Regions from separate parts of the Homo sapiens genome. Here all the other regions are reported to be linked to region 7. The links are microRNA targets in miRTarBase. Many come from high-throughput screens and were not tested one by one. Region 7 holds a microRNA gene; each other region holds the end of a gene's coding sequence.

Region 1 (4,078 bases), not on the chromosome of region 7:
ACTTAACTTACAGCAGGTGCCCTTTACAAGAGTTGTTTTTAATTTTTAAAGTAGAGATGGGATCTCACCATGTTGCTTAGGCTGATCTCACACTCCTGGGCTCAAGCAATCTGCCTGCCTTGGCCTCCCGAAGTGCTGGGATTACAGGCATGAGCTACTGCACCCAGCCTGTTCTTTTTTTAAATTTCAAAAATATAATAATTTTTTTTTCCTGGTTCTAAAAGGAATCCTTATTCATGGGAGAAATATTTAATCCAAAAAGTTTAAGTGAATGTAAATTCTATCCCAAAGACAGTAGTACTATGAACATTTTCATGCATTTCTTTTCATATACTTTTCATGAATGTTTTATTTGTAGAAAATATGATGATGCTGTTATTATTTTGTAACCTGCTTTTGGATTTAATGATTTGTTTAGCTCAATACATATAGATGTAACAAAAATATAACTCAGCCTGCAAATACAAATGAACCTACCCATACTCCAAGCCTTTCCATGTGCTACTAAGCCAGGAGTCCAATCTTTTAATACGTCTCTCCTTCCCAATATTCCCAAGTTTAGAACTCTGGTTTTGGAGTTTTAAAAGGGCACACATATTTAGAAGTAACAATTTTTTATTTTGTGCTAGGCATTGAGGTGGTTATACAACAGGATATCAACTTAATAAACCTAAATGTTTGGGAAAACATTAGTATATAAAGTATTAGTTTAAACTTCTAAATATGAGTATTATTTTCTAAACGTTTCCATTTGACAGTTCCTCCATTCTGTTCTCAGTTCTTAAGGAAGCAATGTCAAGAGAAAGGAAAATATCTTTTCTTTAATTCAAGACTTCAGAGACCATTGTAAACTTGAATAAAGAAAGCTAGGAGAAAATTATTATTATTGTTATTATTATTTTGCAGTGATATTTCACAATGCTATTCAGGTTTGAGTTGTCAACAACACAGTGCAGGCTTTTGAGTCAGGCTGACTTGGGATAAGATCTTTGCTCTGGTATCTGCAAGCTCTGTGGCTTGCTACATTACTTTGAGCATGTTATTTCACCTTTACAGTCTTGTTCTCACTTGAGAAAAAAATAATTACAGAAGGCACTTGGTAAGGTCAATTTGAAAATTGGATAATGTGTTAAATGAAGGATTTGGTTCCAAAAACTTCCTGGTTTAAAGAACAACAAAAAATTTTCTAGACCATGAGAAGAAAAGTAACTTATATTTGCAGTTCCTTGTGGTATTTCTCCTTCCTCCACTTCACTACCTTTGTGTGAATTTGAAGGTAAACAGATCAACCCCTGGCTGCAATGTGAAGTCAGCAAAGACTTGCTTCTGATTGACAGCCTCTGCTTCCTTACCCTTCTTCACTATTGCAGGTGACTGTCTCACTTTCAGGATCCTATTCGGTTCCTACTCTTCCCTTTCAAACCAAGTCTAAAGTAGCAGCCATTACTCATTTGCATTAATTAAACTGAACTGGAGTATGCTTCGTTCCTAAGTTTTTACATTTACTACTAACTTTTACCTCCAATTATGCAATGCATCTGACGTAGAACATGACACATGGTAGTAGAACTAGCATCAGAGTTTTGGGCTGTGGCTCTGCTCCCTTACAGTGGACGAAAGTGGGATAGCCACCAAGCCTCAACTTTAGTTTCTCTGCCCCCACGTTGTTCCGTGGTGACTTCTGAGAGTTCCTGGCTAGAAGAGCTGGAATCCCTCCATCACTGGCATCTCCCAGGAGCAGGAACCCTCTCCCTTGGCACGGGTGTGCTTCTCTCCAGCCCTCCTCCAAGCAGACATCCCAACCAGGGGCAGGCTAATTCAGTCTCCTGTTCCTTTTGACCTTCACCAGCCAGACTCCCTCATGCATATTTCTGATAACTGTGACTCGTTAGATACATTTTAAATTATTATCTTAATATGTAATATTCACACAATTTAATATAAAAATTTTTAGAGGAGCTATAAAATCTCTCCCACCCTAATCTCCTTCTTCAGTCTTCCTTCTTCTCCTAAATACAGGTAATCATTGTAATTTATTTCTTATTCTTTATTTATACACAGTAAGGACAAACGTAAGTTTTATTTAACATTTTCACCCCAAATGTAGCATTTTATGTACACTGCTCTGTATCTTGCCTATTTTCAACTTTTTAAAAAGAAATACCGTCTCATTTGTTTCTCCAGCTGAATAGTGTTCCTTTATATGAATATGCCTCAACTGTCTCTAATTAGGAAAATCGAGATGGTTTCTTGACTTTTGGTATTACTAATAGTGCTGCAGAGAATAATATTGTTTGTAAGTTATTTCACACGTGGGCAAGTTTTTGTTGTTGTGGTTGTTGTTGTTTTGTTTTGTTTTGAGATAGAGTCTCACTCTGTTGCCCAGGCTGGAGTGCAGTGGCATGATCTCGGCTCACTGCAACCTCCACCTCCCAGGTTCAGGTGATTCTCTTGCCTCAGCCTTCCGAGTAGCTGGGACTACAGGTGCCCGCCACCATGCCCGGCTAATTTTTGTATTTTTAGTAGAGACAGGGTTTCACCATATTGGCCAGGCTGGTCTCGAACTCCTGACCTTGTGATCCACCCTCCTCAGCCTCCCAAAGTGCTAGGATTACAGGCCTGAGCCACCACGCCCAGCTGTGGGCAAGTATTTTTATAGGACACATTTCCAGGCCTAGAATTTATAGATGAAAGGCTACATGCATCTGTAATAGATATCACCTAATTGCCTCCATAGTGGTTGTACTATAAATGGCATGCATGCTATTTAATTTGTATTTCTATTATCATGAGTGAGATTGAACCTCTTTTAATGTAGTTTTTTTTCTCTGCAAACTGTTCATGTCCTTTCACCATATTTCTATTGTGTCTCCTGTAATGTAAATATTCACTGTGTAATAATATTTTCAAATCTTAAAATGCAAATTATTCCCAATATTTCTCATTGTCTCTAGCAATTTCTGGCAAATAAGCAAATCATTGCAATGGAGTTCTATGTTAAGGAAAGTATTTTTACATTAGTGGCATATTTTATTGTATCTACCCAGCCAGCCTGTATGAAAATACACCCATTTGAAGAATCAACCATATTAATGAATTTATTTTGACATACAAACAATTTAAAATGGATAGAATATATAAAGCCACATTACAAAATAAAAACAATTGTGGTCAATATGCACAATCTTAAAACACAGATAAATATATATATACACAAAATCAAAGCAATGTGATTGTACTATAAATTGTATTACCACTCTATGAAGAATCATGTCTGGAGAAGTCCTCTAGTCCCTCCACCTACCTCGGGCTTCTAAACTCTGTAGTAAGCTCTTGCTTCATGTCGTTCAAGGGTCTTCCTTGTTTGCTCAGTTTTTCTGTGAGACTGAACACAAAGAACAGACATCGGCTGATTTCTACTTGGACAATGGCCCAGGCACAGGTGCTGTAGTCCTGGTTTTCCAGGTAATCATGGATCCTTCGGAAGTACATTTTAACTTGTAATCTAAGGTTATCACTACCCAAAGTACCACTTAGCTTCTCTGCTTCCAGTCCCATGAGTGCTTCTAGGTATTCTAGCTGTTGATGAAGTTGAATGAGGAATTTCTCCGTGTGGTTTTCCTCCCAACCATCCAGAGAAATATTTGCCCTGAAGAGGCTGAAGATCTGCTGAAGCATCTCATGGAGAATGGCCAGAGTGTGTCCTTTTTGGTACTGCTGAGGACTCAAAGACTTCTGAGGAAGCAGAAAGTTTTTCCTGTGTGGTAGACACTGCTGAATTGACAAGGTTTGCAACTTATTCAAGAGTTTTAAACTTTCTTGATTCACTTGTCTTTGCTGGAAGATAATCAGTTTCAAATCTAGAGAGAAGATAGTGGTAGAGGCCAGCAGCACCAACACAGTTCCAAAGAAGTGCTTGATAATCATGGTGAAGGTCAAATATGCTACTTATCCCTGCATAGACTTAGGGAAATTCCAGCTCTAGTGAATGTTTGCCTTTCATGCATCTCAGATTATTTTGGAGAGTGTTCTCTTTTGTTGCTTTCGTTTTCTAATGTCATTTCTCCAAGTTTACACA
Region 2 (4,078 bases), not on the chromosome of region 7:
CCACCGAGCCGCAGTTCCTGGGTCGCGCGGCAGCTGTGAGCGCCGAGGGCAAGGCGGTGCAGACCGCCATCCTGGGCGGCGCCATGAGCGTGGTGTCGGCCTGCGTGCTCCTGACCCAGTGCCTCAGGGATCTGGCGCAGCACCCCGACGGGGGCGCCAAGATGTCGGACCACAGGGAGAGGCTGAGGAACTCGGCCTGCGCCGTGTCTGAAGGCTGCACCCTGCTATCTCAGGCTTTAAGGGAGAGGTCTTCGCCCAGGACTTTACCGCCAGTGAATTCCAATTCTGTGAATTAGCACCCCACCCCCATACCCCTTCTTCCACCCCCAGACTAAAGGAAGATACTTACTCTCTGCCCCTCTCCATTTATACCAAAGAAATCATAGGTGAAACCCCCTACCCTCCCCAACGTTAAATGCTCGAGAGGAATCTTCCACAAGGCAGGGCCATGCACGCAACCTGCACACGCACTTGGAGGGCCCAGGTGTCTCTCCACCAGCCCCCATGCAGTAGGGACTGGAAGATATGTCATCTGCTGGTTGTGTTATCACTCCCACCCCCTACCCCAGCCCGTCTTCCGGAATTTCTCAACTAAATTTCATTATTGGGCAGGAAGGAGGTCATGGGTTCATTTCATTTTTGTTTTTTGTGTTTTTAATTAAAAGAAAGGTTACCTCAGTTTTCACTCCTTAGACATGGATGTAGCTACCTTTTTTTGTATGTCTTTTTTTTTTTTAAGCAATCGTGTTGAATTAGGAGTATACTTGGTGTGGAAAGAGTATGAATTTGCCATGTGATTTGCAAATGGGGGGAAGCTACTGTGAGCGTGTGTTTTTTTAATTTACACTATAGAGTGATTTTTTTTTCCCCCAACGTCAAGTTTTTACCTTGCATGTACTGGAGTATTTATTTCATCTATTAAAATGTTATGTTTCTCAGATGGCTTTTTGCAATTATTGTTGATTTTTCAATAATTGTAATTTTGCATGCTGCATGTCATGTATGGGAAGGGTCTGTGGGAAGGCTATTTCAATAGTAGTGAGGCGGGCCCCCAATTCCCAGCCCTTTCTACTATTTCCTCAAGAAAAAGTACTGCTCAAGAAGTACTCCCTTGAGCAGCCTGGAACTGAAGAGAGGACTATGTGTAACGTTCTATTTTAAAAGGCAGGTGACACAAATGGGATTGGGTTATGTAGAGTGCTTGGGACGGTTTTGTCTCATTTTTCCTGGAAAGTGATTTAGCTCCCTTTGTCTCCACTTACCTTTCCATCATCATGAACAGTGGCTCAGGCTGCTTGAATTCTGATTTGTATTCTGCCTATCATTTTCAGATTAAATCCTAATCCTGTGTGGTATGCCAGCCTTCCCAACTCAGAGTCTCTGGATGGAACTCTAAAAGTACTGTACATCAAGTGAGAATAGTTAGCATCTTTTATGTACACAGGTCTATTCAGACAAGATCCTCATGATTTCAGAAAAAATATAGAGAGGGTCCTAGACTGCTTAATAGAGGAAAGAAGTATCCTGGAAAGCTTGTTAAGAACGTTCTAGAGCCACAACATGATTGTAGGCCAAGGGCTTGTTTTTGTGACCTTGATCTAAGATAATGCCATGGTTGATTGTATGTTGGAAGAATCTTTGATTGGAATTTGGAGTAATATTAAGGTAGTTTGTCTTTTCTGCAGACATTTTTAGGAGTCTTTTTGTGTGAGTGGTGGTGGAGTGTATAGTTTTGTTGAACCTAGTTAAATTCTGAATATCTTCCCACTAAAAGCACAACAAATCTATTTACAGTGCCTGAAGCCTGGGAGAGCCACATGAGTAAAAACTCGTACGTGGTTTAGATTTGTTCCATTTACATTTTTCTTGGGATTTGTTGTGCTTAAACCTTTGCAGTTCCCACAGATCTGAAAAGAAAGCATTTTTCACTGTAATACATTAAGAGAGAGAGAAAAAAGTCATATTGACTATTTTACTTGTTTGAATCGCTGTTTTTATTACAATGACATGAAATACAACGTGTAAAAGTCTTTAACCTGTGTTGGGTAAGGGTAGGACTGTTTCACCACCCTGAATTTGAAATTTGAAAAAGTCTTAAAGTGGTAGGGTACTTAAATTTTTAAAAAAATGACCATGGGAGCAGTTTTTCTCTGTTAAATCCTGGTAAACTTCGGGTTTTTGAAGACTTTAAAAGATGAAAATGACCTTGAGCATCTTTATTCCTTTCCTCTGCCCCTTAATGTTGGGATGGGGTTCAGGATGAAAGGGAGGTGGGATTCTAATTCATGTGCCAGTGACAATCCTGCATGCATATAGAAATTTTTATTTATTGAATGTACACAAGTAATGATGGAGTTTGATTATATGGTTCATTTTCATTTATCCTATGCAGATCACAAAGAGTAAACTGAAAGGAACAAACGCTAAGTAAAATAAGGGCCAGAAATCTGTAAATTTGGTATTAGATTAAGAAAAAAAGAATTGCCAGTTTTTTCCTGGACTCTTTCCTTGCAGAAGCGATTTTCAGGACAACTCAAGCCAATTAAAAAAAAGAAAATCACTTTCCCTATCTGTTTGGATGAAGTTAACTAGCTAGTCACTAAGTGAATTTTGAAACCTCTTACCTAAATGATAGCTGCTCTTGGTGTTTCTTTATGCTCTACGTTTGGTCATGTAACATGCATAATCTCTGTTCTCTGAAGTTGATTAAAGTTCTAAACTTAAGCGTTTTCACTGCTCCTGCACCCCCCACCTCCCATTTATAACATAAAGTTCAGGGCTTTTCTTCCAGCAGGTGTCTTGAAGTGAATTCTGCTTGTACTTTTTTTCTAGCAGATTTCAAGAAGCCAGAGTGAGGAATGCTAGGCAAGGGGATTGGGCACAGGTCTTTGACATTTTAACTTTTCTCTAATGTCCCAGGTTGCTAAACTTGTTTTTTAAATAGCCCCTGATGTTTAAAAAAAGCAGCGTCTCAGACCTATTTCATAATAGGGTTTAATAAGGTCAGCAGAGATACTGGTTCCAGGAATAAAATCAGAGTGGCCTGTTTTTTTTGTTTGCTTTTTAATTTTTAAACTAGGGTTAATTTAAGACATTAATCCTTGGGTTCTTCTGACTCCTGAGGGCAAGTTTTCTTACACAGGCTTAATGTGCATCATCTTGACCAGGGAATGTTGAGAACCTTCTTCCTTTGAATGGTCATGAGAAAAGGAAATCATGATTGCTAAGTTCTTTGAACAAAAGACATTATTTATGATAGTCAACTCAGTAAATGGAACAAAAACAGTCTTTCAAACATAAGACTTAACCAGAAAAAAGCACAACTCCATCTTTCTTTGCCTGTTTTAAGCATAGCATTTATGGGTGATGTTAGGAAACACAAAAATTATGTGTGTGTATTTGCTTTCTTCCGCACCCCCACCATCCTCATCTGATTGGTTATTTTACACACACTTTTTTTTTTTTTTGAGAGGGAGTCTCACTCTGTCGCCCAGGGTGGGATCTCGGCTCACTGCAAGCTCCACCTCCCGGGTTCATGCCATTCTCCTGCCTCAGCCTCCCTAGTAGCTGGGACTGCAGGTGCCCGCCACCACGCCTGGCTAATTTTTTTTTTTTTTTTTTTGTATTTTTAGTAGAGACGGGGTTTCACCGTGTTAGCCAGGATGGTCTTGATCTCCTGACCTCGTGATCCACCCGCCTCGGCCTCCCAAGTGCTGGGGTTACAGGCGTGAGCCACCGCGCCCTAACTTTTTTTTTTTTTTTTTTTTTTAAAGCTGGCATGGGGATTTAAAATATTTGGCAGTTTGGAACAGCTAATTTTAACAGAAACACCTGTTTTTCCGAATGAATGTGACTATGGTAACATGCAGATCAGGCAGAGGATTTGAAAAATGACTGCCAAAATTCTTTCTGAGCTTTGCTGAGTGAACGTGGAAGGATTTAGAGAAGAAATCCTTAAAGATTTAGTAGCATTTTCACCTGGGACTGTTCCCTGGGCTGCCTTGTGGTTTGCATCAACTGGAAGAGGCTTTAAGGAGACCATCTCTGAGTTTCCAGTGTGGGCACAGGTATTTGTGTT
Region 3 (4,078 bases), not on the chromosome of region 7:
AAATTGTTTTCATCTCAAGTTTTTCTAGCCCATCCTGTGCACATAAAAATTCTCATTCTTCAGGGAGGCTTTGAGTGTAATTCTATGGTGCATCAAAAAATGAGTTTGAGATTAACGGCCTGTGGAGATCTCACTGTGAGAAGGCAAGGGAGGTTTGTTGTTGTTGTTGTTTTTAAATCTAAGGAATAAGTAAGAGTTTAGTAGTTTGTGAAAGCTGAAAATAAGGCGAGTCTCTGCCCATCTTTATGTATGTGAAGTTATGATGTAGGCATAATAAATTAATACGCCTACAATTTATTATAGGCATATTAAATGAGTGAAAACTAATTTATTGCAACTAAAGCCTGGAAAAAAACCATTTCCACATTGGCAGGGCCACTCTCAAGTGTTCAAATAAAACCAGGGGGGAAAGCCACTGATTTTCTTAAATCTTTTCTCTTAGGCATGGACCAACATGGTGCTAACAGTTCTCAATCAGATTCAGATTCTCCCAGACCAGACCTTCACGGCCCTCCAGCCCGCAGTGTTCCCGTGCATCAGTCAGCTGACCTGTCACGTGACCGACATCAGAGTTCGCCAGGCTGTGAGGGAGTGGCTGGGCAGGGTGGGCCGTGTCTATGACATCATTGTGTAGCCGACTCCTGTTCTACTCTCCCACCAAATAACAGTAGTGAGGGTTAGAGTCCTGCCAATACAGCTGTTGCATTTTCCCCACCACTAGCCCCACTTAAACTACTACTACTGTCTCAGAGAACAGTGTTTCCTAATGTAAAAAGCCTTTCCAACCACTGATCAGCATTGGGGCCATACTAAGGTTTGTATCTAGATGACACAAACGATATTCTGATTTTGCACATTATTATAGAAGAATCTATAATCCTTGATATGTTTCTAACTCTTGAAGTATATTTCCCAGTGCTTTTGCTTACAGTGTTGTCCCCAAATGGGTCATTTTCAAGGATTACTCATTTGAAAACACTATATTGATCCATTTGATCCATCATTTAAAAAATAAATACAATTCCTAAGGCAATATCTGCTGGTAAGTCAAGCTGATAAACACTCAGACATCTAGTACCAGGGATTATTAATTGGAGGAAGATTTATGGTTATGGGTCTGGCTGGGAAGAAGACAACTATAAATACATATTCTTGGGTGTCATAATCAAGAAAGAGGTGACTTCTGTTGTAAAATAATCCAGAACACTTCAAAATTATTCCTAAATCATTAAGATTTTCAGGTATTCACCAATTTCCCCATGTAAGGTACTGTGTTGTACCTTTATTTCTGTATTTCTAAAAGAAGAAAGTTCTTTCCTAGCAGGGTTTGAAGTCTGTGGCTTATCAGCCTGTGACACAGAGTACCCAGTGAAAGTGGCTGGTACGTAGATTGTCAAGAGACATAAGACCGACCAGCCACCCTGGCTGTTCTTGTGGTGTTTGTTTCCATCCCCAAGGCAAACAAGGAAAGGAAAGGAAAGAAGAAAAGGTGCCTTAGTCCTTTGTTGCACTTCCATTTCCATGCCCCACAATTGTCTGAACATAAGGTATAGCATTTGGTTTTTAAGAAAACAAAACATTAAGACGCAACTCATTTTATATCAACACGCTTGGAGGAAAGGGACTCAGGGAAGGGAGCAGGGAGTGTGGGGTGGGGATGGATTATGATGAAATCATTTTCAATCTTAAAATATAATACAACAATCTTGCAAAATTATGGTGTCAGTTACACAAGCTCTAGTCTCAAAATGAAAGTAATGGAGAAAGACACTGAAATTTAGAAAATTTTGTCGATTTAAAATATTTCTCCTATCTACCAAGTAAAGTTACCCTATGTTTGATGTCTTTGCATTCAGACCAATATTTCAGGTGGATATTTCTAAGTATTACTAGAAAATACGTTTGAAAGCTTTATCTTATTATTTACAGTATTTTTATATTTCTTACATTATCCTAATGATTGAAAACTCCTCAATCAAGCTTACTTACACACATTCTACAGAGTTATTTAAGGCATACATTATAATCTCCCAGCCCCATTCATAATGAATAAGTCACCCTTTAAATATAAGACACAAATTCTACAGTATTGAAATAAGGATTTAAAGGGGTATTTGTAAACTTTGCCCTCCTTGAGAAATATGGAACTACCTTAGAGGTTAAGAGGAAGGCAGTGTTCTGACTTCTTTAGGTGATCTGAAAAAAACACCCTTATCATCCAGTGTACCATCTAGAGATCACCACAGAATCCATTTTTTTCCCAGTTCCACAAAACACTCTGTTTGCCTTCAGTTTTTACTCACTAGACAATAATTCAAGTTTAGAAACAGGTAATCAGCTATTTGATCTTAAAAGGCAATGAATTGTTGGGATATCAGTGAACTATGTTGTATACTTTTGAATTTTTACATTTTATAAATGGAATTGAAAGTTGGATAACTGCTTTTTTTAAATTTTCCAACAGAAGTAACACCACAGTTGCTTTGTTTCTTTTTATAGCTTACCTGAGGTTCAGTTCTTCTTTGTGAACCTGTGAGTACTCCACAGTTTACTGGGGGAAAAGGCTTCAGTAAAGCAGAGGCTAGAATTACAGTATTTATACATAGCAACTTTTCATAAAGTAGAAAAATTCAAAGGAAGCTGTCTCAATTTGAGAATACCAGCTGGGCACGGTGGCTCACGCCTGTAATCCCAGCACTTACTTTGGGAGGCCAAGGTGGGCAGATAACCTGCGGTCAGGAGTTTGAGACCAGGCTGGACAACATGGTGAAACCTCGTCTCTACTAAAAATACAAAAATTAGCCAGGTGTGGTAGGATGCACCTGTAATCCCAGCTACTTAGGAGGCCGAGACAGGAGAATCGCTCGAACCCAGGAGGCGGACGTTGCAGTGAGCCAAGATTGCACCATTGCACTCCAGACTGGGTGACAAGAGTGAAACTCCATCTAAAAAAAAAAAAAAAAAAAAGTGAATACTGTATCCCAAAGTATGTTAGTTGTTTGTTTGGAAATCAGCATTCTCCCCGATGCTCTATTATGGGATCCAAAATTCTTGAACATAAGTTTACCCTGTACTGTGTCCAAACACTGTTCTAGTTCTAGCCTGATTATGGGTCCCAAGAATAAAAGGATGAGTAGGTGTACAGAGCTCTTGACCTACAATTTTTTAAGAGTGTTTTGGTACCTTCCCATTGTCTTCTCTATAACTCAGTCCTAACATACTCTGCACTCGAGTTACCAGCCATCCACACTGACATCAGATTTCAACCAGAACCATCACTGAGTGACAGCAGTACTTCTCAGAGGTATTTGCAGCTTGATGCAAAGTAGTCTCTAATGAGTAGGCATTCAGGTGGTTCTTCCCAGCAGGTGGAGAAGAAAGGGAGGAGATGAAGAACACTGAGAGGGGAGTGGCACCTTCCCAGGCTGCCCAGCTCAGTCTCTTGCCCTGTTCCTGTGACTCAGCTGCCCACTCCCCCAACTTTGTTTCCCTCCCTCCCAGTCTCTGAAAGTGTCAGGTGTTTCTCTCCTCACAGTCTCTTTTGCAGCAACAGTAAGACAAAATTCAAGGCAGCCTTTTAAAGTTACGAACAGTTATTAGCATGTATTTACAGACCTAAGCAGAATGAGAGTTTATACATTGTTTTTAGTTGCCTGTATTTATAGCCAAAAGTATATTACCTTAAAGTTGAGATCTTTCTCTTCTTTTCCTAAATTTTGGTAAAGTGTGCTTCATGAAACAAACATCTGGAAAACTCCAAGTATAAGAGACCCTGGACTGATGATGGCCCAGCCAAGTATATGGAGGGACAGAGTTCTCTCTGTCATTAATGAGGACATCGGTTTTCACAATTGAACCTCATGCACTGTCCACAGCATCTCACCTAGCTCCTGTATCTCCTGATCTGCTTTTAAAAATAGTTAGTTAGGCTGCCTTTTTACACCACCTTCTCTCTCTCCCCTTGTGGTAATTTTCCAGCCTTCCCCATAGATATAAAACTAGAACACCTTTATGATTTGGGGTCTATGTAATGACTGACCGATAAGAACCCAGGCAGATGCTAACATACTTAACAGCT
Region 4 (4,078 bases), not on the chromosome of region 7:
AAAGCAAAATTTCGTCTAAATACCTCCTTTACCCATGCATATGTAGCAAATCCAAAATTTTTGCTGTTAACAGTATATATGGCAAAAGGAATATAGACTGCTTGGTGGAATAATTGTTTATTAAACGGCTGATTTTGATTTTGTTAGCAATATTGTCATGTCAAAATAATTCATGACTTAAAATTTTCATGGGATGATATGTCAAGTTTTTGCCAGCTGGACCACAAAGTCACAAGTATATGTTTTGTTTTGTTTTTTTCAAATAGCAACAATTTTTTTAAGATGCTAAACTTTTCTGACCGAATTGTGATTTTTGAAAGCATAAACTTACTTTGTCATCAAAATAATATCATTGCAAAGGATATAACATTAACTTATCAAATGTCTACTAAAAAGCAAGCAGAGCACTTTACAGGACAGGGAGTTTTGGGCAACAAAATAGAAAATGTGCTTGTCAGTATGGTGAGTGTACTTTTACGCACTATCCTGATATTGACAATTCTGTAGAAATTTCCAAGGCAGAAAAAGACACTAATTGGGAATTATGATACAGATTACTAAGGAAAAAAACCACTTCATTATAATCCACATCAAACCTGTGTATGTATTTACTATAGTGTGTTCTAGTCAATTGACATAGCCTAAAAGGAAATGCTGGTGTACTTAAAATATCTTAGACAGGTACTGTATATTCTACATAGGAGATTGTCAAATTATATAGCTATATTGTAATATAATAAATGGATATTTCACTCTCAAAAAATTAAACTAGCCACATTTTTCAATAGAGTGCAAAATTGAAAACCCTACTAAAAATGTTCAGAATAATCAAATCTAGAGACAGAAAGTAGATTAGTGGTTGCCTAGGGCTATGGTGTTTGGGAGGTTTTCTGTGTTGAACAGCATCTCCCCAAATTCATGTCTATCCAGAAGCTCAGAATGTGTCCTCGTTTGGAAATGGGGTCTTTACAGGTGTAATTAAAATAAGGTCATACTGGATTGCGGGCCCTATGTTGTCCTTTTTTTGTTTGTATTTTGCTTTGAGAAGGTGTCTTGCTCTGTCACCCAGGCTGGAATGAAGTGGCGCAATCTCAGCTCACTGCAACCTCTGCCTCCCAGGTTCAAGCAATTCTCCTACCTCAGCCTCCTGAGTAGCTGGGACTACAGGTGCACACCACCATACCTGGCTAATTTTTGTATTTTTAGTAGAGACGGGGTTTTGGCATGTTGTCCAGGCTGGTCTCAAACTCCTGACCTCAGGTAATCCACCCGCCTCGGCCTCCCAAAGTGCTGGGATTAAGGGCGTGAGACACAGCGCCCAGCTTTTTTTTTTTTTTTTTTAATGAGACAGGGTCTCAGTCTGTCACCCAGGCTGGAGTGCAGTGGCACAATCATAGCTCACTACATCCTTGAACTCCTGGGCTCAAGTGATCCTCCCACCTCAGCCTTCTGAGTAGCTAGAACTGCAGGTATATACCACACCTGCTAACTTTTTATTTTTTTGTAGAGACAGGGTCTTGAACTCCTAGCCTCAAGTGATCCTACTGCCTCCACCTCCCAAAGTGTTGAAATTACCGGCCTGAGCCACTGTGTCTGGCTCCTATGTTGTCCTTATAAGAACACCATGTGAAGATACAGAGACACACAGGGAAAAAGCCCATGCGAAGACAGAGACAGAGACTGAAGTGCTGCAGCTACAAGCCAAAGAATGCTGAGGATTGCTGGCAACCACCAGAAGCTAGGGGAGAGGCATGTGTGGTTTCTGCTGCAGACCCTCCAGAAGGAACTAACCCTGCTGACAACTTGATTTAGGAGTGCTGGCTTCCTGAATTGTGAGAGAATAAATTTCTGTTCTTTAAAGCCACCAAGTTTGCAGTAGTTTGTTATGGTAGCCCTAGGAAATACAGGGGCGTTGGGGGAAATAGGGAACCATTGCTAATCAGTACAAGGTTTCTTTTTGGGGTGATGAAAATGTTCTAAAATTGTGGTGATGGTTGCGTAACTCTGTGGATATATTAAAAACCACTGAATAATACATTTTTTTTTTTTTTTTTTTTTTTTTAGTCTTGCTCTGTTGCCCAGGCTGGGGTGCAGTGGCTTGATCTCAGCTCACTGCAACCTCTGCCTGTCAGGTTCAAGCAATCCTCCTGCCTCAGTCTCCTGAATAGCTGGGATTACAAGTGCACACCACCAGGCCTGGCTAATTTTTGTATTTTTAGTAGAGACGGGGTCTCATCATGTTGGCCAGGGTGGTCTTGAACTGCTGACCTCAAATGATCTACCCACCTTGGCCTCCCAAAGTGCTGGGATTACAGGCGTGAGCCACTGTGCCTGGCCTGAATAGTATACTTTAAATGGTGAATTGTATGGTATGTGAATTATATCTCAATAAAGCTGTACATTAAAAAACCCTACACAAATAGAAATATACCTATCATTATGTTTTTCCTAATTCCTTTTTGATTTAAACATTTTTAGGGTTTAAGACTATTATAACCTCTATATAAAGAAAACTGAAAATTAAGAGACACTGGTTCACAAATTCTAAAAACAACCATTACCTAAAATACTTGAAGAACAAACTGAGTGGCCTATTTTAAGTTAAAAAATATTTAATATTATCAGATAAAAACATTGATTGTGACAGCTTTACATGTTTCATTCCATACACAGTGAAAAAGGCAAAGTATTACTAGGAAGGAAATGAGTAGTTGGGTTTGTAAAAGATTTATTGATCACATAAAAGCAATGAATAGGAGATGACATATATCTAACTCATGATTACAAAACTTTTAGAGACAACTAGGTTAAATATTTCATGTTTTGGCTAAGGGAAAAGAATTCATGATCTCGTTAAAGAAGTTCAAAGTCAACACTGATATTGTACAACTACCAGTGCTTTTCTAATGATCTAGAAATTTGCTATAAATAGCTTTACTTTTTGCTAGTTAATCACTTACTATGATTGGGTTTTATTTAACAGTGAGGACTAAAGAGGCAGAATCCTTTTTTAACCACTGGATAAAACAGAGACATAAATTAATGATGGGTGCTAAGCTTTACATTTTATGTTAAAAAGATGGAATATATTTAAGTGGATTGAATATATTTCATGAGGAGTTGGACATATTAAACCCCCAAATCTGTTTAGGAAGTTTTGTGAGAAAGTGTGTATATGCCTTGACTCACTCTGGCTTACTTTTAAAATGGAATACATTTGGCACTAAATAAAATAAATAGACAAGCAAACTGTGAGACTAAGCTGCTCCATCTGAGTTGCCCATCTTGACTTACAATTCATACTATTTCTTAGTTCTTGACTGAGCACAAACAGACCTAACCGTATAGCACTTCTGTGATGCATGAAAATAGAATCTAGAGCTAAGATACTGCGCTTCACTGATGAGCCAATCTTCTATTCTGCCAAAATCATAGTTACAAATGTGAAATTCATTCAAGAAATTCACATTTTTAACAAATGCTTATACTTTTTCAAGTTTTCTTGCTAGATATGTTCTTGGTTTTGTGGCCAGCTAAAATATGATCTTTGAATTAAGGAAATCCATATAAAAGAAACATCTATTTTATAGGAACCTCATTTCACTTGAAACTTTCTTTACCAAAACACCAAACCAAAACTTTGTCACCAAACTCCTGGAACAAAGCACTGGTGGCTATATTTTAGAGTCTCTGATGAGTCTGAAGTCCACTCATTTTTCATGTTTCAAGGGTCTCTTCATTTGCTCCACAAGTATCGACAACACAAATTAAACAACTTGTGACTGGAAAAGCACGAACTTTGGAGTTGGCAACCCATTTGTCTGTTTCGGTATTATATTCGAGAATGTGTCCTAATCGACCAACACCCTGAAAACCAGCCAAGACATAAACTATAGAGCCAACTGCTGCACATTTCACTGTTACACCCTTCCATGGCATTGGTGAGACCATCTTCCATTCGTTCAACTTAATATCGTAATATTCCACATTGTCCAGACCACCTTCAAAAGAATAAAACATGAACAACATGAAAAACTATATCAACAATTCTAAGGTTTCTTAAAGTAATAACTTTTTG
Region 5 (4,078 bases), not on the chromosome of region 7:
CTCAGGCTCGTTACCGGCCACCCTGTGGGGCCAGGCTGAGGCAGAGGGGCTCTGGGTCCCAGGAACGCCCAGGCTGCGCGCCATCTCCTCTTTTTCTCCTGTGGCTGCATAGTCCCTCCTCCGCACTCTGTCTCCTCCTTTCCCAGAGAGAACCTGCTCTTCAGCAGGCTCGTAAGAGCACTTGACCCCTGGACTTGGGACCAGCCCACATGCCCTCTGGTGCTGCCCCTGGAATGTTGGTTTTGCTGCTGAGTCTTGGTCCTGGTGTGGCTCCCGAGGGCGGGGTGGGGTGAATGGGCAGGGGCCATTTGAAGTCGAGGTATCTGAACATAGGGAGCCTTCTTTCCCCGTCACTAGATTGAAAGATAAAGGTTAATAGGCTCATTTTTTGATTGGAAGTTTACAGATCAAATAATAAATATGGAATACAAAGAGGCTTTATTTCCCTCGGCGCTAGGCTTCATTTGTGCCGATTAGATAACACCTGCTATCTGCCAGTCTGTCGGGGCAGATGTGTGGATCCCAGCTGACTTCTTCTGCACCCTGACCCTTAGCGCCCAGCGGGCATTTGAGCCTAGCAGATGTGGGAGAGTCAGGCAGGGGCTGCTTCCGAAGGAAAGGACAGGAAGGGCGGCTCAGGCGGTGCTGGGCTCAAAACACCCGCTTCCGTTCCTGTGGTGCAGCGCACATGCCATCCACGCCATGCCTGTCTGATCATTTTAAAAACCCAGCTTTGTCGTCTCGCTTCCTCTCTCCTCAACAGGAAGCAGCGAAGACGGAGAAAAGGACTAGGTGGCTGCCAACGCGCACGCTCGGGTCCGAGGCTGCTCCCCTGGAGCGGCGCCCCTGCGCCCTCAGCCCGAGCAGCGACATCCACTCGCCATTTGCTGACATGAGATTGGGAGGAAGAATCCAGAGGTGAAGAGGGAGACGGCTCTTAGCTGCGTTCAAGGCGGGGCCCTCGGGAGCCCAGGTGCAGAGCGAGGCCGTGTCCAGGAGCCGGCGTCCCTCAGTGCCCCGTGCACCCGCGGCCGCGGCCTCCCAGGCAGTGCTCATGCGCTGGCCGTCGGGGGAGGCAGGGGCACAGCCTCCATGTGCGCGCGCGTGTGGAGCTGTGTGCACCGCATGTGTGCTTTCCACAGGGGCGTCTCTGCGTCCACGCCTGCACATCCCGGCGCACGTGTGGGCACCACAGAGGACACGTGAGGGGAATGGTCACCAGTGAGCCATATTTATTATTTCTAGAGAAATCACGAACTGCTTTCTGTAATTGCACTGTGGATAAATGTTCCGAGAGTCTCCATTGTTGTACAGGATCTTCAGTTATTCGAGGGGAATGAGGCAGGTCAAGCCGATGCTAGCCACTAGTTTGATTTTTTTTCTGTTTTATAGTTTGCGCTGCATGGTACTTGTGAAGCTTAAATATTTTGAGTGTTCTACTGTGTCTAGGATTGTTGGGATTGTACATATGGTACTCTTTCATAAATGATAAATGATTCTGAATGTTAGTGTTTTATGTTCATATAGGAAATATTTTCATTGAGTCCAAAATACCACTGTTTTGTTGATGGACTTGAATGCATTTTTGTCTCTTCTTGATGAAGCGGCTTTGCCGCAGCAAATGAGGCTTCTCTCTGAGGAGCTGAGAGGTCTTGCAGCCTCTCCTTGTCATTCTCCCACCCCACATCCCATTTTTTAAAGCCCTTTTGGTAAAAACCAACAGGTTGTGGCCGCAGACCTCAGATGGACCCGGCCCATCCCTGGGGACGTGCTGGCGTGGCAGGTCCAGAGAGCTGCACCCTGCACGGGGCACCGCACCGCTTCCCTCCGCGCAGCTCTTCTGCCTGGTTTTCGGAGGCCAGGCTGCTGGGAAGCTTCCGTGTTCCTGTCAGTCCTTCCTTCAAGAAGCCGGGGAACTCAGGCAGACTCATCTCCGCAGAGCATACCAGCCGTGGGGGACCGTTCGACTTGATGATGTGTGCACACTTCAGGTGGTGGGGACTTGAGCTTTAAAAAAACCTCCACAGCCGAATCTTCTCCTCCGAGCCACTCCACGTCACGTCCAGCTGGGCCTGGCCAGTCTGTGGTTATCCATGTGGGATGAGATAACACCACATCCTGCAGCTGTGAAGGGGGATGGACAAGGGACGACGGCCGACGGCAGAGCATCAGCAGCCGACACATAGTTCGGGTCGGGGCCTTGGGTGGTCCTGCATGGCCCGGGACTCATCTCACGGACCCTCCGTTCTGCATTAAGCCCCAGGTTCTCTTCTGGCTTTGAAAGGGCCCGAGTGCTCCCAGTGTAGCTTCGTCACATCGTCACGAGCCCCTGTGGTCATGGGCGACCTCACACCTCCCTCCCTGAGTTCTGCTCTGACATAAGGAAGTCCTCGGTGGCTGGTGCAGCGCGGCTGTGCTGTGCTGGGGAGGCAGCCGTTCCTTCGGGGGTCCTTGGGCCTGCAGTCCCCTCATACTCACCCTTCACCCAACATATTTTCCGGTGCTGATATGTTTCCAGACTCCAGCGCAACCTGGGGTGCTCTCCAGACCCGTGCAGGGGCCGCCTGGGGTACACGGAAGGAAGTTGAGTCCTAGTGCAAAATGCAGGCGGACGTTGCCAGAGAGTGCGCAGCAAATGACCTTCATTGCCAGTTCCACCCTACTCCTCTCATTTTTTATACTAAGCAATAACTTTCCAAAGCAAGAAGTTCAGGATGGAGAGAGTCCCCTCCTGTGTAGGCATGGGGTGGATGCGGTGCCCACCTGGGCTATGTGGGGAGCACCACTGTCTCGGGATGCGCGAATTTTTTTTTTTTTTTTAATTAACAGGGCATTAGAAGATGATTTTGCCAAAATTGTCATGACTCTGAATTCTTGCTGTGGGGACTTCCTGAGTTTTCTCAGTTTTTACATCTAAGATTAGTCTTGGCTGAAGAGAAATGAGACGTGATTATACTACTTTTTCAATTGCAGGTTTAAGGAGTTCAGATTTAATGACCAAAGTCATACAGATCATGGAATCTGTCGTCGTCTTATACAGTGTCAGCCTCGAGTACATTTATTAACCTTTTGGGGCTGTCAGTTTTCCACTAGGATTAAGATTTTGGCCGGGCGCGGTGGCTCACGCCTGCAATCCCAACACATTGGGGGGTCGAGGCGGACGGATCACTTTGAGCCCAGGAGTTCAAGACCAGCCTGGGCAACATGGCGAAACCTCGTCTCTACTAAAAATACAAAATATATATATATATATATATACTAGCTGGGGCACATAGTGGTGTGCACCTGTAGTCCCAGCTGCTTGGGAGGCTGAGGTGGGAGGATGGCTAGAGCCCAGGAGATGGGTGTTGCAGTGAGCTGAGACCATGCCACTGTACTCTAGCCTGGGTAACAGCCAGACCCTGTCTCAAAAAAAAAAACAATTTTTTTCATAACATAATTCCCATTTTTATTTATTTTGAGTCACTCATAATTAATTGCCAAAAAAGCATTTTATACATTGAGTTGGGGGGTAGTGGATCTTAGTGTGGTGTTGCATGGAGGGGCGAGATTTTATATTTATAATCAACACGTGGGTTAACATGTTTTTTTGAAATCCAAGCAATACACAGGAAATTTAAGTAGAATAAAAATTGCAGCCCATTTTTGAAATGTCAGCATGTGCTGTGTTCAGTTCAGGTTTTTGTTGTTTGTTTTGTTATTTTTTAACTAATAAGTTGGTTATCAGTGGTGGGTTTTCAAAATGTACTTGTTCTAATAAGTTGTACAATGAACTAAATCAGTGGCATTCTCTAGATAATGTGGGGGAAGGTTAGAATATTTTCTGGCCTTCTATGGGGTAGCAACCCAGAATCAATCTGAATTAGTCCTGTTTTGGTGGAGTTTGTACATTTTAAATCCTATAACAAAAATAATCTAGTTTTCATTTCCTTACTAGCTAGATGCGAATTTGTCTTTTTGAATGACCCTGTCAATAAGCCAGAAAGGGCAACCCAGAAAAAGTGCTCCCCACATCCTTCTGAGACTTGGCCTGTGTGTGTGGACGAGAAGCCATTCACCGTAAGGGTGCAGAAAGCTC
Region 6 (4,078 bases), not on the chromosome of region 7:
GCTAAGGCATGTGGGCATCTGTTGTTGGAGGAACACGTGGGAGTGCGGTGTCAGTGCGTGGCTGCTGTTCCTCTTTGCGGGAGTCTCTCCAGCCACTTACGGAAGGTTGCCTTCTGCTAGGGACAACCCTCCCAGGGCTGACTGAGAAGTGTTTTGGCCTAGGAGTTTCCTGGGACCTGTCAAGAAAACAAAAATAATACTATGTACTAAACTTTAGTCTATTTAATTCCAACATCCCTATTACGAGAAAATAGACTTTGAATACTTCATCTCTCCTTAAGTCACATAGCTAACACTTCAGCCCAGTTCTGTCTGTCTGTGTTCAAACTTTTGTGCTGTTTTCACACAGGGAAGCAAGGGGGCAAGGCTTGCTTTCCTGTTGCACCACACTCTCTTACATTCTTTGCCACCCAACAATATATTCCACATGCTGGATCTCTGCCCCTTTCTTCAAAGTAAGGGCCTCTGTGAAGTGGCCAAGGTAGTCATGTCTGCATGGCTTACGCTGATTATCTGCTGTAGAGTTTGAAAGAAATTAGAAATGAGGCCTTCCATAGACAGAATCTCTCGTCTTCTCTTGCAGCCAACAGGAAGGCCGGGTGTGCAGTCACATCTCTGCTAGCTTCGGAGCTGACCAAGGATGATGCCATGGCTGCTGTTCCTGCCAAGGTGTCCAAGAACAGTGAGACATTCCCCACAATCCTTGAGGAAGCCAAGGAGTTGGTTGGCCGTGCAAGCTAATGTGGGTCCTGTGACCGCGGCAGCTCCTCAGCGGAGCCGCAGACTGTCCTGCCCTGCAGCATGTGCCTAAAGGCTCAAGGGGATATTCCTCTGGGGTGGCCACTCCCACCACCCTGACCCTGTCTTTCTCTCTGGCCTGCTGCTCTCTCAACATCACATACAGCTTCAGCTGCCTGGAGGCCAGAAGGAAAGGGCAGTGCAGGGGAGGCCTGAGCCCGACTTAGCCAGCCCTGGCTGTTGTATTACCAAAGCAGGGTCCATGTTTGCTGCCTTAACCCTGTCTCCTCTCTGTTACTCAGAGGGCCTCATCTCAGACAAGGCCCAGCCTGCTTTTTCTCAGCCCTGACTTTCTAATGGGCTTTCCCCCCTAGGTCAGTCTTGCTGGATTTGTGCTTTTCTTTTGTGGTTTCTCTGGCCCTGAGAATAGCATGGGGCTTGTAAACCTTTGGGCTAGATCCCTCCTTTCATTGCTGTTGTCTCTGCTCTTCCCTCTCCTGGCTGTGGTTATTTATTATTAGTGGTGTGGCACTGGGAGCTGCTCCTAAGGAAGCAGGGAGCAAATCCCACCTTTACCCCACCTTCCTGGGAAAGGCCTCCAAAGCAAAGGATCTGGACCAGTTTCCCTGCTGTGCTGTGGCCCAGGCCAGAGCCTGTGGGCAGGCAGGCAGGGCATAGCGACAGTGTGGGACCTGCCCCCAGCTTCTGCCACGCTTTATGCCCTTGCCTCTCTGGACGCTCTGCACCAACCCCAGGCTACTGAGCCACCTTCCCTCCTCATGCCTTCCCTGAGCTTTGGTGCATCTCATCTGGACTATGGGTTGTACTGTGACCATCCCAACACCTCACCCTCTGTCTACAAGGAAATGGGAGGTGGAGCCTCCTGGCTGAGAAATTGTTTTGCAAATGGATCTATTTTTGTATGAAAAAAAAAATTTTTTTAAAGAAAACTGTTCCTTCCCCCTTTCCCCTCCATAATGTAAGAAGCTTTGGTGGCAGGTTACAGAGTTCTGGGATTTCTTCTCACAGGCCCAATCCTGAATGTGCCCCTGGACCTTCTGGACCCTTGAGTCCAAGGCAGATCCTCTCTCCCAGGGAATCCGACACAGGAGGAACCCCTTCTCTGGTTGAGCTGGGCCAGGCCTAAGAGTAGCAGGAACTCTAAGACCACAGAGTTTTTTATAAATGTATAAATGTATCAAGCCAAATGTGCAGATGCTAACTGGACATTCTGGGGAACTGGGCACCAGGAGTGCCTTCATACACTGTACCCCAGCTCTCTTCTAAAAGAGAAGTGGGTGGGCACACTGAACTGTTTGGTGGCCCCAACCACAGGAAGCTGCAATTCTCTGGCTTAGGGTGATACTTTTGCCCTCCTTGTGCCCCTCTCAGCTTTCCATCCCCAGCTAGGAAGAAAGAATGGCACTCTTGGGCTTGGCCCAGAATTAGAGTTATTAGAGCAAGAGAGAGCTTAGGAAGCATGAGGGCAACTATAGTGAGGCCTTATTGCCAGGAGGGAGGGTTTTGGTTGCTGGCGCTTGTGTATAAAGGGGCAAGAGCAGCTCCTTTGGACTATTCCTGGGAGGACTCTGATGCAGGGCGTCTGTTGCTCCCCTGGGTCACCTCCTCCCTGCTCGCTGACATCTGGGGCTTTGACCCTTTCTTTTTTAATCTACTTTTGCTAAGATGCATTTAATAAAAAAAAAGAGAGAGAGAGAGAGGTGTGAGGGACAAAATGCAAACCTATTTCCCTTGCCTCATAGGCTTCTGGGATGTCATCACCTCCAGTTTGTTGGTTTTGTTTCCAACTGTTAATAAAGCATTGAAACAGTACTGCCTTACAGCTTCCTGTGTGAATTTCTGAGCTGTTTTCTTTTCACTCTAGTCCAGGCTCCTCTAGTCTTTCCTGCCTCAAATCCCTGGTTGACCTGACAAATCACTGTGAAAAAGCTAAAGGTGCCAGACACTTTACTTGGGCACAGGGCTAGAGATGATTAATACATGGTGGCTGCTGCCCCACCAGAGCTCACCTCAGGGCCGTTTGGCCACAGTAAAGGAGTGGGCGCCTGGTTCAGCTCCCTGACTCTTCCACATTGCTGCTACTTGGTTTGGAGCCCTTTTTTGGAACTCACTTGGAACCTTTCATGTTCCCAGATGTCACGCAAGGTTTCCTGGCAGTACCTGTGTCTCTTGCTGAGGGAAGCATCTGGCTCCCATTTTCTCATCCCCTCTGCTCTGTTGGTGGCCACAGACCACATTCCAGAGTAGAGGGGTTTACCCTGGGGTGGAAACCTGAGCCTGCCCAGCAGAGGTTGGGAGCCTGAGGTCATGCTCCAGATGACTTGCCACTTGGAGCCATACTTGTCTGAGCACGTTATGACCTGCACAAAAAAGCCAGACCAGCAATGAGCAGGCCCAGGATAGACAGGGAGAGGCCTGGAGAGGACCACAAACCCATTCGGGCGGGCTCTGGAACTGGAAATAAAAGCCTTTTAAATAGCCCTGGAGCCTGGGCAGCTGCCTCCTCAGTATGGCCTGAGGTGTGGGGATGGGTTGCCTGCCGCCTCCCTCCCGTCCCCCCGGAGGCCACGCCTTTCTGGTTCAGAGCTTTATAGGCACACATACCAATTAGGGGACAAACCACAGCTGCTCACGCGCTCTGCCAGTCTGCTGCTGTGCCTGGAATAGAACCCAGGCGCCCGGCACCCCGCCCCTCCGCAGCCTGGCTCTGAGTAACAAAACCCTGCTTCCATCTCAGCAACCGTGCACACCACCCTTCCTCCCACGCTAGAAAGTCGCCCCCAGATTCTTAAGTTGGAAGGTTTGGTTCCCATGACAACAGACTTGAGCTGGCAGAATGGGTGACCTGGCTCTGGGAGCCTCCGCAGCGCGGAGGAAGCCGCATACCCTTGCTGACCAGCCAGATAACCGCAGTGGCTCTGTCTTTGTGTTCTTGGGTCCTTCCGGGTAGTTCCCCTTTTAAGTCCCCCTTCACCCCCAGCTCCGTGTTTTTCTGCAGCTTCTCTGGCTGCAGCAACCTCGGAATCCCACAGTGCTTCGAGGAGGCAGGCGGAGGGGGCGGGGAGATGGGAGAGCAGGCGAGTGAGTGGAAAAGCACCGACAGGAAGGAGGGAGGGGAGCTGAGTCTGCGATGGATCTCATTTCCTGCACGTCCTTTCAGTCCCCTTGACCCCCGCAAGAAGAGGATGAGCCCTCCAATTTCTTAGGCTTCGCTACGGAGATGTCAGCGGGAAGGCGAATTCCAGATGGGGAAACTGAGGCTCGAGCTGCAGACTTGGCTTTGGAAGAATCACCTCCCGCATTCCCTCCCACTCCCGCG
Region 7 (4,000 bases):
CGCACCCTGCCACCTTGTGCACCCCAGCCCTCAGCCTGGGGTCTCACCTGTGAGCCTGAGTCCCCGTGCATCTCTTCAGTCCCTCTACCGAGCCCCACATCTCCACCAGGACCCTCATAGGTGCCTCCAAGCCACCAACTCCGACTCCCCCAACACCTGCACCACATCGATGACAGAGCCTCACAGTGCAACTCTGGGCGCCTCTCAAGTGCTCTCCCCACTACCCTCAACTCAAAGTTGAGGAAGTGCCACGTCGACCAGGGCACTTCCACCCTGCCCAGCTGAAGTGCACACACCATGCTGTGGCCCAGAAGCCATGTTGTTAAACAAAAATCAGGTAACACCACTTGCTTCTGGTGGCTTCCTGTGACACTTGGTCCAGGACTAGAACCTGGATCACAACTATCACCTGCCATCTCACTGTGTACCCACCTTGCCCTTGGTCTCCACACCCTCCAGCTGATGGTCATGCTGGCTCCTGGCATATACCAACATCCCCTCCTGACCCCCTCAGAAGTCCCCTCCCATTCCTCTGCACAGTGCCTGCTGCTCTGTGGTTTCCATAGCACACACCAGGATCCGCATCTGGGTCATGCATCAGGACGTCCTCCCATCCTGTGTTTCCCTCCTCAGATATTTCTGTCCTGTCCTCAAACATGCCTCCACCCAGCCCACTACCTGGCACCAGAGCTCTCTCAAAGCATTTCTGCTAAGGAAGCAACCACCCCTCCACTGCCCTGGAACACCCACTGCTTCTGACCCACACACGTACTTTTGAGCACTGTTTTAATCTTGGTCATCATCGGCTGCACACTTGTCTCTCCATCGGACGGATGGTCGCTGTCTCCGCCATATTTTTCCTCTGTTCGCCTCTTTTTGGGGGCACAAAGGCCTTCTTCCAGCAGAGCATCCACATCGTTGTCAAAGTCATCCTGCAAAACACGCTGTTCAGACACCAGAGCCCCTGGCGCTCATGCTCCTGCAACAGGAGAGCTCAACAGCATTCCTGAGAACAGACACAGAAAGGAGGTGCTCTCAGGGGGCCTAGATGTGCCCTTAGGGTGCATGATCATCTGAAAAACAAACAGGATGAAGCTACCAGCTGACACCAACACACCTGGTCCAGGGGCACACACTGCCAAGGAGCGTAACTCAGCAGCACCTGCTGCCCCACGCGCTAGATCAGGGATGCAGGGCCTACCCATGGGCCAAACTTTTCATTAGGAAACTTTAAAAATCTGGACTCCTTACATCTTTCTCTTCTCCACATTAACATTATTCCACCTCAGAGGGGATTTTGGTTTTTGTTTTTTTTTTTTTTAATTTCCCTGCTTTCAAAAGATGCTGCAATTCCCAAATCTCTCTTTGGGTTTTGCTAAGAGCCCTCTAGAGGAGGGGCTGCCAACATACCTCGTAGGGGAAATTCAAGGCCTCTTCATCCACTCTGTCTCTCTGAACGATTGCTTTAGCCGTGAACCCGCCTGCTCCTTCTTCATCTAGCTCCAAATTGTCAGTAAAATCTTCTAACTCATCGAGCACTGCATACTCCACTCTCTTTTCCTGATCCAGCTCATTCTCCTCATCCTTCTTATCAGCACTCTCACCCCCTATGCCTACCCCGTCACCAACACTCCCGCCAAAGGGACAAGCATGCACGTCCCCACTGACAGGGCTAAGGAGCAGACCGCACTCCGCCCGCACGTCGCGCTCTGCTCCTGTGTACAGCACCTTCCTGTCCTTACTCCTGCAGCTCTCGGTAAAGCTCACGCTAATCTTTACATCCTTAAGCAACTTAAGGTCAGGGGAGAACTTCCGGACCGCAGGTGCGTGCCGGGCGGTGCGCGGGCTGTGGCCACTACAGTTCGGGTCTATGAGGAGGCGGCCCTTAGAGAAGGATCCTTTGGAGAGAAGAGAAGCTCCGTAGAAGTTGAAGGGGTCCTCAGCAGGGAGTTCGGACTGTCCATCACCACCAGAGCCAACGTCCATTACCTCTGCACCACTGGACGTTTGCAGGGGAGGTGGTGGAGACTGCTCACGGGGCAGCGCTTGGAAGGGGCGAGCTCGGCTCTCCATCACCGCTTCTCCTGCGGGCCCACACGGGAGCGGAGAGGGGCTCTCATCTGTCTCCATATTAAAAGCGCTTAAGACTAGTTTACAAGACCAGAGTTTTACAAGCCCTCACATAAATCTACACAGCTAACATGCACAAGTCCGCTGAGACCCGGGCGCGTCCTGCCGCGCTGTGCGCTGGCGGCTTAGTCAAGCTGGCCACATTGCTCTTTTCATTAATGTAGACAGCTTTTAGAACCACTGCCTCAATTATTGGAAATCACAATGCACTCAGCTTAAGTGACTGGCGACTAAGCGAGTCTGTCTTCATGCCGGAGTGGCACCTTTCTTCTTCTACCTGCAAAGAAATTTAAAAATATCGTCACAAAATGACAGAAACCTTCCAATTCCCTGGTACCAAGTTAAAAGCCAAGCACTATTAACAGCATAGTAAAGGGCTTCAAAATAATATTCCCTAAGAGGACTTTTTAGGCATCAAAACAAACTAACCTTACTTTTATTCTTCAGAACCTGAATTATAACTTAAGTCCAAAGTTAAATATTTTGTTAATGCCCACTTTAATTCCTACTTCAGAAACACAAAAACTATATAATCATAAGGCTCAAAAAATATTTTAAAAATTTACACTAAACTCCACCACAGCATTCTTCTAACTCAGATAAGCAAGCATGCAGTGGGAGGCACCCTTTCTGGAACACACAGAAGGCGCGTGGCCTCCCTCAGGCCACCAGAGCACAGCAATCCACTCACCTGCAAGGGCTGGGTCAGTCAGAGGGCGAGCGCGAGACCCTCAGCTCAACTCTGCGGCACTAGGGGCCTCAGAGGCATGGCCAGGCGCTCTGCTACCCAGGGACCCCAGGGCTCTCCTGGGCCCACAGGGTAGCACGTGGACGGGGACAGTGATGCAGCGTGCTGAGGTCACCAGAGGTGGCAGCATAGTTCTGTTCCCGATGGAGGAGAGGGGTGGGTGGCTGTGGGGAAGGGACCTGCCAGGATTTGGGGTGGGGAGCCACAAGAGACAGCTGGAGCCGAGGCACAGAGAGGCCTGGGTGCCACCTGCAGCCCGTTCCGCCCTGGGGACAATAAGGAGCCACTGAAGGTGAAGCGACTCTCATGCCACAAGTAGGTTCCTACTTGAGAGGGGAGACCCACAGCTGTGCCAGGCAGAAGCAACTGCATCCAAGGCACGGGGACAGTCCTCCAGGCCAGAGGACAAAGGTGTGAAAGAGGCCCTGGCAATGGGCCAAGAACAGTGTCACAGAACTGACCGCACTTGTTGACCCAACGGAGGTGGATAGCAGAGAAAAGAGGGAACTAAAGACAAGGAAGGACACCCAAATTCCAGCATGCAGGCAGGAGCCTGGCGAGGAGAACAGAGGGGACCTCCAGGCAGGCTCTGAAGGTGCCGAGGCCACAACTCTGGAGCCATGACTGGTCCAGATACGGAAGGCCAGGACGCACTGAGGAGGTAGTCGCCAAACCCACAGGAGGAAGGCCACCCAGAGATGAGGGTTAAGGATGCAACTCTAGGAAGCCTTACTACAGAGGAAGCATGAAGAAAGGGACAACATGAAGCAGGGAAGATGGGTCTGAGGGGGCAGCCAGAAAACCCTGCATCAGAGCAGAAGGAACACATGCAGACACACGCACATGCACACTCCCACAACGTGCACAGGAACACGCATGCATGCACATGCGTGCATACCAGTAAAGATGCACACATGCAAACCGCACTGCATGACCTAACATCCTCCCAAGATTCCCGGAAAGAACAGGAGATGCAGACATCACACATTTAACAAGGGACAAGGCATGGTGGATGTACTTCGAAGGGGACACAACATGAAAACCAGAGACTAGTTTAGGTTTAATCAATACATTTAACAACTATCCACTGGCCATCTACTCCGAGGAACGCACTATATGGAC

What was found. The annotated mature microRNA hsa-miR-1306-5p reads CCACCUCCCCUGCAAACGUCCA and lies in region 7 at 2,001-2,022, opposite strand. An mRNA with a match to its seed (bases 2 to 7 or 8) in the 3' UTR can be bound and repressed. Matches are read on the target gene's strand: a 7mer-m8 pairs with bases 2 to 8, a 7mer-A1 pairs with bases 2 to 7 and ends in A, and an 8mer does both.
Region 1: the mRNA of IFNE is a reported target of hsa-miR-1306-5p. The part of its 3' UTR that is shown has no 7-base or 8-base seed match.
Region 2: the mRNA of TLNRD1 is a reported target of hsa-miR-1306-5p. Seed matches in the 3' UTR shown: 7mer-m8 at 2,267-2,273.
Region 3: miRTarBase lists ARFGEF3 as a target of hsa-miR-1306-5p. Seed matches in the 3' UTR shown: 7mer-A1 at 1,174-1,180.
Region 4: miRTarBase lists KLHL7 as a target of hsa-miR-1306-5p. Seed matches in the 3' UTR shown: 7mer-m8 at 1,552-1,558.
Region 5: the mRNA of LMTK2 is a reported target of hsa-miR-1306-5p. Seed matches in the 3' UTR shown: 7mer-A1 at 916-922.
Region 6: miRTarBase lists DIAPH1 as a target of hsa-miR-1306-5p. Seed matches in the 3' UTR shown: 7mer-m8 at 1,608-1,614.

The regions. Positions count from the first base shown.
Region 1 is chr9:21,477,768-21,481,845 of GRCh38, forward strand. IFNE (interferon epsilon) reads right to left here. Exons shown (of 1, transcript NM_176891.5): 1 at 3,072-4,078. The coding sequence starts at 3,927. The coding sequence ends at 3,301. The region is part of intron 1 of MIR31HG (MIR31 host gene); the gene reads right to left. Among named protein-coding and RNA genes, the nearest start is that of IFNE, 2.5 kb to the right of the region's middle.
Region 2 is chr15:81,003,065-81,007,142 of GRCh38, forward strand. It overlaps TLNRD1 (talin rod domain containing 1), which reads left to right. Exons shown (of 1, transcript NM_022566.3): 1 at 1-2,724. The coding sequence ends at 296. Among named protein-coding and RNA genes, the nearest start is that of TLNRD1, 4.2 kb to the left of the region's middle. RefSeq lists an enhancer at 1-534.
Region 3 is chr6:138,335,853-138,339,930 of GRCh38, forward strand. ARFGEF3 (ARFGEF family member 3) reads left to right here. Exons shown (of 34, transcript NM_020340.5): 34 at 443-4,078. The coding sequence ends at 634. Among named protein-coding and RNA genes, the nearest start is that of SMIM28, 40 kb to the right of the region's middle.
Region 4 is chr7:23,173,938-23,178,015 of GRCh38, reverse strand. It overlaps KLHL7 (kelch like family member 7), which reads right to left. Exons shown (of 11, transcript NM_001031710.3): 11 at 102-4,001. The coding sequence ends at 3,718. Among named protein-coding and RNA genes, the nearest start is that of NUP42, 6.1 kb to the left of the region's middle.
Region 5 is chr7:98,204,701-98,208,778 of GRCh38, forward strand. LMTK2 (lemur tyrosine kinase 2) reads left to right here. Exons shown (of 14, transcript NM_014916.4): 14 at 764-4,078. The coding sequence ends at 792. Among named protein-coding and RNA genes, the nearest start is that of BHLHA15, 4.7 kb to the right of the region's middle.
Region 6 is chr5:141,513,514-141,517,591 of GRCh38, reverse strand. It overlaps DIAPH1 (diaphanous related formin 1), which reads left to right. Exons shown (of 28, transcript NM_005219.5): 28 at 584-2,571. The coding sequence ends at 741. It overlaps LOC124901091 (a long non-coding RNA gene), which reads right to left and starts at 584. Exons shown (of 2, transcript XR_007058971.1): 1 at 1-584. RefSeq lists enhancers at 303-928, 929-1,554, 2,181-2,806, 2,778-3,027, 2,807-3,432 and 2 more.
Region 7 is chr22:20,084,094-20,088,093 of GRCh38, reverse strand. MIR1306 (microRNA 1306) reads right to left here and starts at 2,036; the gene lies at 1,952-2,036. DGCR8 (DGCR8 microprocessor complex subunit) reads right to left here. Exons shown (of 14, transcript NM_022720.7): 2 at 1,411-2,407; 3 at 773-932. The coding sequence starts at 2,130. MIR3618 (microRNA 3618) reads right to left here and starts at 2,348; the gene lies at 2,261-2,348.